Regions from separate parts of the Homo sapiens genome. Here region 2 is linked to region 1. Evidence: fine-mapped expression QTL. Tissue or cell type: whole blood. Region 1 holds a variant in brackets; the other region holds the start of a gene. All regions are shown on one strand. Distances are between the middles of the regions.

Evidence for each region. PIP is the estimated chance that this variant, and not a neighbour inherited with it, causes the effect.
Region 2: it holds the start of C1orf87, and the variant in region 1 is the best candidate, but not a certain one, in a credible set for the expression of C1orf87 in whole blood (INTERVAL, PIP 0.78).

What each region holds. Positions count from the first base shown.
Region 1 is chr1:60,142,496-60,148,551 of GRCh38, forward strand. The region is part of intron 1 of LINC02778 (long intergenic non-protein coding RNA 2778); the gene reads left to right. It overlaps LOC107984963 (a long non-coding RNA gene), which reads left to right and starts at 6,029. Exons shown (of 3, transcript XR_001738092.1): 1 at 6,029-6,056. The variant A/G (reference allele first, on the strand shown) is at 3,102.
Region 2 is chr1:60,071,702-60,076,729 of GRCh38, forward strand. It overlaps C1orf87 (chromosome 1 open reading frame 87), which reads right to left and starts at 2,069. Exons shown (of 12, transcript NM_152377.3): 1 at 1,989-2,069; 2 at 836-969. The coding sequence starts at 942.

The DNA.
Region 1 (6,056 bases):
TGCTCCTTCACTAGCCCTGGGAAAGTCTGGGCACCACTCTGGGCCTCTATTTTGTCTTCTATCAAAACAGAGGGTAATTATGCTTCAGTGTGTTAGTATCATTAAATTTAGTACCATGCATAGAACTTGGTCCCTAGTAGGTTCTTAGTGAATGTTAGTCCTTTTCTACTCTCCTTTCCTCATCTGATAGCTAGGAACACTAAACTTTCTTGCAAACCTATGCAAAGCAATTATATTTATCTCTGTGAAATTCTCCCCATAAGAAGATGAATCCCTACAGAGAAGATGAGCACATTTCCATAATCTACAATTGGTCTCAGGTATTAGGCTCCTGTTTACAGTTTTGTATAAATGATAAGTCAATATTCAATAGTGGGAATAATCTGAAAAAATAAACTGATACTCCCTTAACAATAAAAAGGAGGAGCTCTCTATTTCCAGCAAGGAACATACACAAGAGCAGGAATTTTAAATTTATACAGTTTGCTTCATTTGCAGCTTTGGTGGTTTCCACATTCATAGTCATTTAATACTCCTTACGTTCCAAGAGGAAGTGAGGAACTTGGGGATCTGTTGAAGGCTTGGCGAGTCTCAGTCATTCCTTTCTTAGTTCAAGAGGGTATTTTATACCTGAAACATACATTTTCCTTTCCAGGTCTAAAAAATTGCAAGATATAAAGAAAGCAGTTAAAGCCATAATGCACATGGAGTACAAACACTGTTTGAAGATGAGTAAATCATTCAGAAATACCTGAACAGCATTTAAAAAATACTTTTTCTTATTGATGGCTGTAGATCACAAGATTGGATACCTTTATAGAAATCTAACTGTGCTAGAAACACTAGGCAGAGTTACCTCTCCAAATGTAGTAATACAGCCCCAGAATAATTCTCCTTCAAGTTTTCAGATCTCAAGTTCATAGGATCTGGTTTAGGTGGGTCCTTAGAAATGATTTAAATCCCCTAATAACATAACCATATAATAGTTTTTCCACTTGTGTTTGCACATCTCCAGCAATAGAGAAGAGCATTCTTCCCAGGGCAGTTGAGTTGAAATTAAGTCAATACATATGCATCGAGCTCCTCTAATATGATAGTCAATTGTTTGTACAGAGGTATGTATTAGCTTCCTGTGGCTGCCATAACAGAGTACCACAAACCAGGTGGCTTAAAACAACAGAAATTTATTGTCTCACTGTTCTAGAGGCTAGAAGTTTGAAATAATGGTGTCTGTAGGGCTATGATCCCTCTGAAATCTATAGGGGAGAACCCTGCCTTACATCTTCCAGCTTGTGTTGTTTGCTGACCACCCTTGGCATTCCTTGGCTTGTAGATACATTATTCCAATCTCTGCCTCCTTCATCACATGGTCATCTTCCTGCGTGTCTCTCTTTTTCTCTTAAGAACACCAGTCATAGTGGATTATCTCATCTTAACTATTAGATCTGCAATGATCCTATTTACAAATAAGGCCCCATTCTGAGGTACTAGGGGTTAGGACTTCATCATATATTTTGGGGGTATGTAATTTAACTGATAACAGGAATTAAAGATGGTTAAGAATTGGTCTCTGCTTTGGGTAGTTCCTAGTTCCATGACTTCCCATAGCAGGCGTAGAAAGTAGACAGACTTGGTTTTCTAGCCCAGCTAAACCTCCTAGTGGCCAAATGACCTTAGTCAAGTTAATTAAGCTGTAGTTTCATCTTCTGAAAATGGAATAAAAATTGAGAAAATTGAATGGATCAGTGACTGGAGAGTGTATATCAAGATGATAAGCACAGGATAAGCACTGAATAAATGTTATCTTTCCCTTTCCCAATACCAGGACTTTATTGTATGATCAAATTATTCATTCATATACTCATATATTCGATTATTTCTGCAAATATTTCTCAAGCATCTAATACACAGCAAGCACCAAGGTAATATATTAGAGAAAAAGACAAGACATGATCCCTTCACTCACGGAGGCTATTATCCTGCTCTGTGCTAGATTTTAATTAAACAATTTATTTAGCAAAATGCCAAAAGGCCTTCAAAATAAGAAGAATGCTCAGTAGTGCACAGTCTGACTATTGAAGAGTGATAAAGGGAAATACATCTAACATTTATTGAGTGCTTAGCATATAACAGATACTGTGCTAGATAAGTTATCTGTCATCTCATTGAATCTTGAAACAACCTGAGGAAATAGTTGTTTAATTTAATAGGCTACAGTTCAGAGAAGTGATGAAACCTACCCAAGAACACTCAGCTGGTAATTTCTAGAACCTCTTTCTCCTCTGCCACAGTTAGGAGTCTATTTACTATTGGTCAAGAATTTGGTCATCAGATTGAAGACACATGAGGTGGAGATGAATGAGTCTTCTTTTGACAAAACATTTTATCCCTTATGTGGAATGGCAGTTTATCTCAAGGTAAGCCTCCAGGCCAATTTCTGCCCAGTTCTATTTTTTGTATCCACATGACAGCAGTTCACACAAAGCTTACTTGTGCCAAATCCTGCTTACTTTATGTTGAATGGGTTTAGGGAGACTCACTAGCATCCTTCTTTCATGATCCCTTGAAATCAGAAGGGCAAGAGATGCACTCAGTAGCCACATATGAGGACCCATTATAAGATTTTGATTCTCTTGATTCTGTGTTCTAAGAAGCCAGACACCTGTGCATGAGCTGAAGGCAATTCCTCCAGCTTTACAGTCTTCCCTACTGACTGCCAGAGTCTTCCCAAGTCCTCACATCACTACCCAAGGGCTCATAAACACTCTTGCAAGGTAGATGAGCTCTCCATATGGTTTGTCGTTTGAGAGAAATCCTAGGAGATCAGCAGCTTGGAAGACCATAACAGCCATGGATTTGACGTCTGTTTCCATGTTCTTTTCCTTCCTTTTATTGTCTGCGTGGATCATATATTCTCTTGGACACCAGCTTGAATCCTAAAAGCCTTCCAGAATAATGTATTTGCTCTTGTTCTTTAGGGAAGCTTAGCTTCAAGGCTTTTATGGTTATTTCATCCTGAATTTGCTGAGGTTTCATGGGTTACACTTTCTTCACTTATCTACATATGGTTGTGAATGAAAATCTATTAAATAGAGAAAAGG[A/G]TGACTTCTTAATGGCATTGCTGTCAATGAGGGTCATCGTCACAGCTTTCAAAATCTATGCAGCAGGGATCCCCTAGAGCAGTGGCTCTCAATGGGGAGAAAATTGTCTATCCCCCAGGGGGTGTTTGGCAATATCTGGGAATAGTTTTTGTTGTCATAACTGGTGTGTATGTGGGATGCTATTGGCAAAGGATGCTGCTAAACATCTTACAAACCCAAGGCACTCTCCCACAAGAAAGAATTATCTAGCCCAAATATCAACAGTACTAAGATTGAAAAACCCTGACCTAGAGGGTAGTCTTTAGACATCACCCTGAAAACTGAATGCTCTGCATTCCAGGCTTGGATCAACTCCTAACTGATTATTTTAACATGGTCAAACAACTTAATGCCTTTGAACACCAGCTTGCTTATATATAAAATGCAGGAAATGGCTGTTGGGAAAGAAAATTGAGCCACCAATTGTATTTTAAGGCCAAAGGAAAGAGGAAAATAATGTGTAATATTCACAGATGTTCATTTGAGTTATTTATAAGAGCGAATATCACAAAACAGCTGAAAGTTTTGTTTAAATAAAGAATAGTTTGACAGAACAGTATGAGGATCTTACAAAACAGTTTTCATTAAATGGAAAATGACTTTGTTATGATATTTTTAAAAGGATAATATTATTTAAATTAGTATGTACAGTAGACCAGAGAGGAATTTGTTACTGTGTTTCCTGAGCTGTCTCTATCAGTATTTCCTGTTGCACTCATCAGTGTCTAAGACTCAATTGTTTAAGTGTGTGTCTTTATGACCAGATCATGTGAATGATGGTAGGTCATAATTATCTCTGTATCTTCAATGTCTTGCACGTGGAAGGTAATCAACAAATGTTAGTTGAGTTTGTTTATTTATGTACGAGAATAAAAAAATAACTGCAAGAAGCCTAACTATATAAAAGATCAGACAAATGCAGCCAAATGTTAACAATGGTATTTTTAAGTTCAATTTCTCTGCATTTTCTATTCTACTATTTCTATATAAAGAGTATGTTTTAATTTTACCACAGGAATAAAAAAATAACTAGAGAGATTTTTGAACAAAGACTCTCATGTAAGTACATGGAAACTAGAAGTGTTTCCCTCCTGTTTTTTTTTTTTTTTTTTTTTTTTTCTCACTCCAGCCTGACCTCTTACCCAGGGAGAATTAGGTACTATTTTTTTGCTGCTGTCAACATTAGGTACTGACCTCTGTAAAAGCATTGATAATATCATATTGAATTTTACATTTTCACCTGCCCCACTACTGTGAGCAAATTTGATACAAGGCCAGTTTTTACTTATTTATCTCTGTATTCCTGCCACCTACCTCAGTGCCTTTTATACCAGTGGTGATCAGTGTATGCCAAATGACAAAACTCCTGTATGTAGTATTTACTATATCATACTGTGATTCACTGTAAGGGGGCAGGGACTGCAAATCACATATTAACATGTAGTAGATGCTCAGTAAATAGAGTTTGTTGAATAAATGGATGACAATAAAGCCTGTACTTCCTGCACTAAACCAATTAAACCAACTTTCCTCCAACAGCACCTGCTTGACTATGGATACATTAGCATAGCAGAGTTGAACAAAATCGAAATCCCTCACTTCCAATTAGGAGATAAGAGCAGGCTTGGATCCTGGCTTATTTTGCTTAAGGCTTAATCATTTGGCTCCCAGGTAAATTCAAATTCTTTAGAAATGAGTCAAAAATGCTCTTTTCAAATTTAGCATCTCTAGTCCAAGGTTGTAATTCCTTGATATTCCTCTAATGGTGTGAAACGTTGGACATTTTCTTTCAAATGTGTGACTTTGTAAAGTTCTTTTATTCTCTCGGTGACTTTAAAATAAAAAGGATGGTTATGTCTTAGGTATTGACAGGAAAGTGCTCTACTGTTTTGGAGGGAGCTTGAGTAGCAAAAATACTGAATAGTTTGGGGTAATGGTTAAAACACAAGTGGGTTTAAATCTTAGCTCTGCCACCCGTTGATTCACTGTACAACCTCTTGTAAGATAAGTCAGTGCTCCATGCCTTTGTTTCCTTCTTGAAAAATGCAGGCAACATTGTACATATCTCATTGAGTTTTGAGAGTGATAAATAAGAAAATGATTATAAAAATCACAGCACACTACATCTGGTACATAATAACCATTCAGTAAAATCAGATATCATTATGTCAGTAACAATTTGTGTAACCTGTGGAAAGTAAATTCAGGGCTTTCTTTTCATCTCCTTTTCTCCCTTCTGTAACTAAAGATTTGTACTAGGCTATCTGAATTCTCCTTCCCAGATCCTAGATTTTTATACCCATTGATTCTAAGGATTAAAGTCTTTAGGAGCCTTGTTGGATGTCTAATTCCTGTGCAGATTCTGTAGAACTAAAAATGGGTCCACTGACTGTAATCTAATGAGGCTTGGAGGCTGGGGGAAACCATCAGGAGAAAGAGTAGCAGTGAGCGGGCAAAGAACAACGAAGTATGGGAGAAAGAGCACTGGGTCAGGTGTTAGAGAATTAGAATCTAACTCAGGTATGGGATGGCTGTACATATAATTTCTCCATGGCAGCACTCAACTTTCTCACCAATAATATTAGAATGAAATCGCTAGTGAATTCAAAGCCTCTTCCAGTTCTACCTGATATGATTTTGGTCTATTTACTGGGCATACTATCCTGAATTTATTCTCTTCAGTGTTTGTTCCCCAGCCTGCCAAAAGGCCGCTCTCCTCCTTCAATCTTTCTGACTTCTTTCTATGAGTTCTGAACTTCGCTTCCCCTTTAGATGCTAGCTTATTAACCACTCTTATACACTGCCTAGAAATCCCAGAATAATACAAGATATTTGTCTGAAGGTCTTAGGGGTTCTTTCTGCATCTACTGCTTTCAGAATGACCATAATGAGGCTCCTGGGACCAACCATAGGTTA
Region 2 (5,028 bases), 71 kb before region 1:
TTTGAGGTCTCTCCCAGTGATTCTGATGACAGCTAGGTTTAGCAAAAATTTCTTCTTGCACCTATGTTCAACAATACCATATCTTTGTATATTTGTTCAGTCTATGAGTTTCTGAAATAGAAGATAGAGCTAAGGAAATAATCTTAGGAAGGAAAAGTAATTTTTGACTAGCTATTACTTATGGAACGCCTACTATATGAAAGACAGATCTAGTACCTTCCCTCCTTTTTTGAGCCACTGAAACTCTGTAAGAAAGAGCTAGTCATACTGTTCTGTGCTGAAACATCTGGTGAATATTAGAAATACAGGAGTGTCATCTCTTAAATGTGACTCTGATGGGTTTGGAATAGAAGAAAGAGATCTTAGCCATGATCTGAGAAGCCCAAGCTTAGAGGAGTATCAAATACAAACAGGAGTAAGTGAAAACCTTACAATTTATGATTCTGTATTAATCCTACTCCTGTAATTCACAACAAATTGACTATTAAACCTCCCCCACTCTCCCCAAAATTAGTACATGTGGTAGATTACAAGCCCGATGAGAAAAGGCAGCAGTGCTCCATTAATATTTATAAATGTCGCAATGCTCATATTTCCCATCTATTTGGAAAATCAGCCCAAGTAATTAAGGAGTATGGGGAATTATAAAGATGAAAAATATCAGGAAAACAGTGCACATGGAAGTTATCAACACGATTTTACCTCTACTGTTGCATCTTAATGACTTCGTTTTCCATGGATGGCATTTTTTAAGTTTAAATTTCTGGGTGAAAACAAAACAATAAAACTTCATTATCATCCAAGCAACATAGATATTTTTCAAATATGGACTTACATCTTTGGCTTCTCCACGAGGTATTGAAAGTGTTTACTTCCAATGATTTTCACCATGATCTCAGGCATTGCATCTGATCCACGGGGAGTCTTCCAGGCTGAAGACATGATTCCTTTCAAAATCCCTTCAGATCCCTAGGGGTGAAAATAAGTAAATTGTTCCTCTTGATTTTCCATTAGGGAACTGCATCATCCTTGCCAATAACAACAAGCAATAATAATAGCAGGACAAAGTGTTTCACCTATATTACCTCACTTAACACTCCTAACAAAGGCATGAGAAAGATATTTTTAACTACTATTATCATTTTTGTTTTACTGTTGAGGAAACAAGCAAAATGTAGCTATATGACTTACTCACATCACATCACATCACCAGTAATTAGCCGACTTGGGAATCTCACCTAAGAGGTCTGTACAGCAGATCTACTGAATCATTAGGTGACTCTACCTTCCTGTACTACAAGACATAGGATGGAATTCCAGTGAGGTCAGAGCAGAAACAAGGGCATTAGTGGGACATATGAAGAATCCATATTCAGTTCTGATGTTTAGTTTCCCCATTTATGAGATCAGGGTAATTCTAGGTCTGTTCTCAGGGACTTGAGGGTGAATCCAAGGAGATAATGCATCTGAAGGGAGACTGTACACAAGACAGACAGACTTTTGTTGTTATCACTGATCTCTTTCTACAACAATACAATGAATCTGAAATTGAACTCCTGCACAAGGTGTTTAAACAGAGTGATGCCAAGGGAAAATCAGAAGTTCAGTAAATCTGGCCACAGCTGAACACTCCCTTTTAGAACCACCCAGAGGCTGAAAGGCCTTTAGAAATCATTCTACTCCAAAGGCTCCTTCACAGATTGGAAAACTAAGGCCCAGAGAGGGTGTGTTATTTGACAAGGGTCACAGAGGAATGAAGGACGGGACTGTTTCCAGTACTTGGGTCTGATGTCTAGGCCAGGGTTCTTCCCAAAAGTCCAATACTAAAGACCTGTGCTAGGGCAGCCCCTCATCCCGGGGACCTGCAGCCTCTTTGCACCTGTCTGGAATCTTCCAGACCCGGAACTCGTGATCCTCAAATCCCCTCCCTGCCCAGCAGCTGCGTGTCGGCCCTGATTGCCCGGAGAGAACAGAGTCGGGGGGCTTACCGCTAGGGCAGCGTCCCCACCCTGGCAGCTCAGAGGTGCGCGGTCCGTGCTTCTCCCCAGGAAGCTGACACTCTCAGACCCGGGGACGGGACGGGGCGTGGGGACCGAGCCCAGGAATCCGGCCAATCACAGGGCCCGCATCGCGGGCGGCGCCTGTTCCGCCCTGGTCGCTAAGGACGCTGAAGGCTGTTTCTGGGCGGGGACCAGGTTTTTCTCCACTGCCTAGGCAATGGACCCAGGCTCTGGCTGCCAACGGGTGAAGAGCCTAGGTGTTTTTGATCTGTGCCTTCTCTGTTCCTCAGAGATATGCGGGCGTCCTTCTAGAAGCCCATCTCGCTCACCTGTGTGGTCACCCTTGTCCCGCCCTTCCTCCGAAGGCTTCATTTCCCTTTGTGAGTTTGCACATAGTTGAGATTCCAACACAGTAGGTTCAAATCCAGACGTCTCCACTGTATGGCTTGAGTAAATCCCTTCTTTTCCCTGAGATTGTTTCCTCATCTGTGAAACGGGGCAAAATAATAACACTGTCCTAACTGCGATTTGGTGACTAAATTAAATAAGAATATCGGCCGGGCTCAGTGGTTCACCCCTGTAATCCCAGCACTTTGTTAGGCCGAGGTGGGCAGATCACGAGGTCAGGAGATTGAGACCATCCTGGCTAACATGGTGAAACCCCGTCTCTACTAAAAATACAAAAAATTAGCCGGTCGTGGTGGTGCGCGCCTGTAATCCCAGCTACTCAGGAGGCTGAGGCAGGAGAATTGCTTGAACTTGGGAGGTGGACCTTGCAGTGAGCCAGGATGGTACTACTGCACTCCAGCCTGGGCAACAGAGCGAGACTCCATATCAAACAAACAAAGAAACAAAAAAACCAGAATATTATAGATTGATAATAATAACGTTGAGTACTGTCTCTATGCCAGATCCCTATGACAAGCTGGATAACTCTCACCTCACAAGTTAATAGTTATAAACAAAATAGTTTTACTTTATTTTAAAGAGAAAAGAAACAAGTTGGGGTATTGATAAACTACTCCAAATCCTGCAAAAGCAAGTACAGAGCTAAGATTAGAATATAGATCTGCATATCCTACATTTCCAGACAGTTGTTATTATGCTAAAAGAAACTTCAGCTGATGCAGGCAAAGACACTTTAGATTGATTCCCAAACGGTATTGTTATTTGCATCAACATAGGCAGCAGCAGCTCCAGCATCTGTTCCCCTGTCTCCTAACCTCTAGCTGTACTGTGCTTTACAGGTGAATATATCACCCACTGGCACATGCAGCCAGAGGTGGACAGCACACTCAGCTCCCCTCCAGGGGCTCACTCTCTAGAGGGTGAGACACACAGCCACATTCTATGATATAGAAAGTGTTAAGGGAGCAGAGAAGCGGGGACAGCTCCCTTCTCACTCCTCCCTCCTAGCCTTCACGTTGCTTCCAGATCAGTCTTCCCAAGGCCCAACTCTGACAAGCCCCCTCCTCTACTCAAATGTCTGAAAGATCTCATCAGCCACAGCAGGTGTCTGTGGTTTCAAGACCTTCCACTATCTGACTTCAAGCTAGATCTCTAGCTTGATCTCCCACTACTTCTCCTAGGCTTGTTATGCTGCATCCAACCCAGTCTACTCACTGGCTTGAATCTCCCTTTCATATCTCTGCCTCAGTGCCTTTGTTCACTTTGTTTCCTCTGCCTATAATGCCCTTCCATTTCTCACTGTGTCAGCCTGCCTATCCATTCTTTAAGTTGGATCTCAAATGATATGTGAACTTGGGAATCAGACACTTTGAGTTCAAATCCTTGCCCTGCTAGTTCAGTGTAATCTTGGGCAAATCACTTAACATCTTTGTGCTTTAGTTTCCTCTTCTATACAATGAGGATGACTTTTTGTGAAGTTTAAGCGAGTTATATAAGAAAGGAACTTAGAAGAATGCCTGACACATAACGAACAATATAAATGTTTGCTCTTATTTTGGAAGAAGCCAAACTGGATTCCAGAGCTGAAAGTGGCTTCTTCATCTTATCTATAACTTGTGGTTTCTCTCTTAGGAAATATGTGTGTCTTTGTCTGAGAGTGTGGTATTTATTTGCTTTGTTTGTCCGGGCTTCTCGTGCTATGCTGTAGAGGGCTGAATAATGCCCCTCCCTCAAGATGTCCACCTTTTAATCCCCAGAACTTGTGAATATTACCTTCCATGGCAAAAAGAACTTTACGGATGTGATTAGGTGAAGGAACTTGAGAGGAGAAGATTATCTAAATTTTTCAGATGAGCCCTAAATGTAATCACGAGTGTCTTTATAGGAGGGAGGTGAGAGAGATTTGATGACAGAAGAGGAAGTAAATGTGACAATGGAGGCAAGAGGGTACAGGGATTTGGGGAAGGGATCATGAGCCAATGAATGCAGACGGCCTCTGGAAGCTAGAAAAGGCAAGGAAACTGATTCTACTCAAGACCCCCAGAAGGAATCTATTCTGCTGACCCCTTGGCTTTAGCCCAGTGAGACTGATTTTGGATTTCTAACCTTCAAAAATGTAAGACAATACATTTGTGTGTGGTAATTTATTATATTATCCATGGGAAAATTTAACGTCATGCTATTGAAGGACTCTTCTTTTCTTTTTCTTCTCTGTGTTTGTTAAATATCCAGAACAGTGTCTAGATTATAGTGTGCTCTACAAAATTTTTTGACCAAATGAATGAAGGAGAATAGAACCAAAATTAAGTATTAAAATTTCTCTCTAAAAAATACTATAATGAAAATGGTACAGGTGGGAGTTTTGTCTACCTAAAACGCTTGCCTATTCTTTCTTTCTGTGAAATGAATGCTTTCTTTGGGAATCTCTTTTCCTATTTCAAGGAGTCCTTGTGGGCATTTTCAATCAAAGTGCTGCTTGATTATACTCTATGTCTTAAGAAGGCCAGAGTTCTTATCAATGACCAATGCACCTGACCCTTGAACAATACAGAGGTTAGGGGTGATGACTCCTCATGCAGCTGAAAATTTGCGTGTAACTTTAGACTCCCCCAAAACTTAA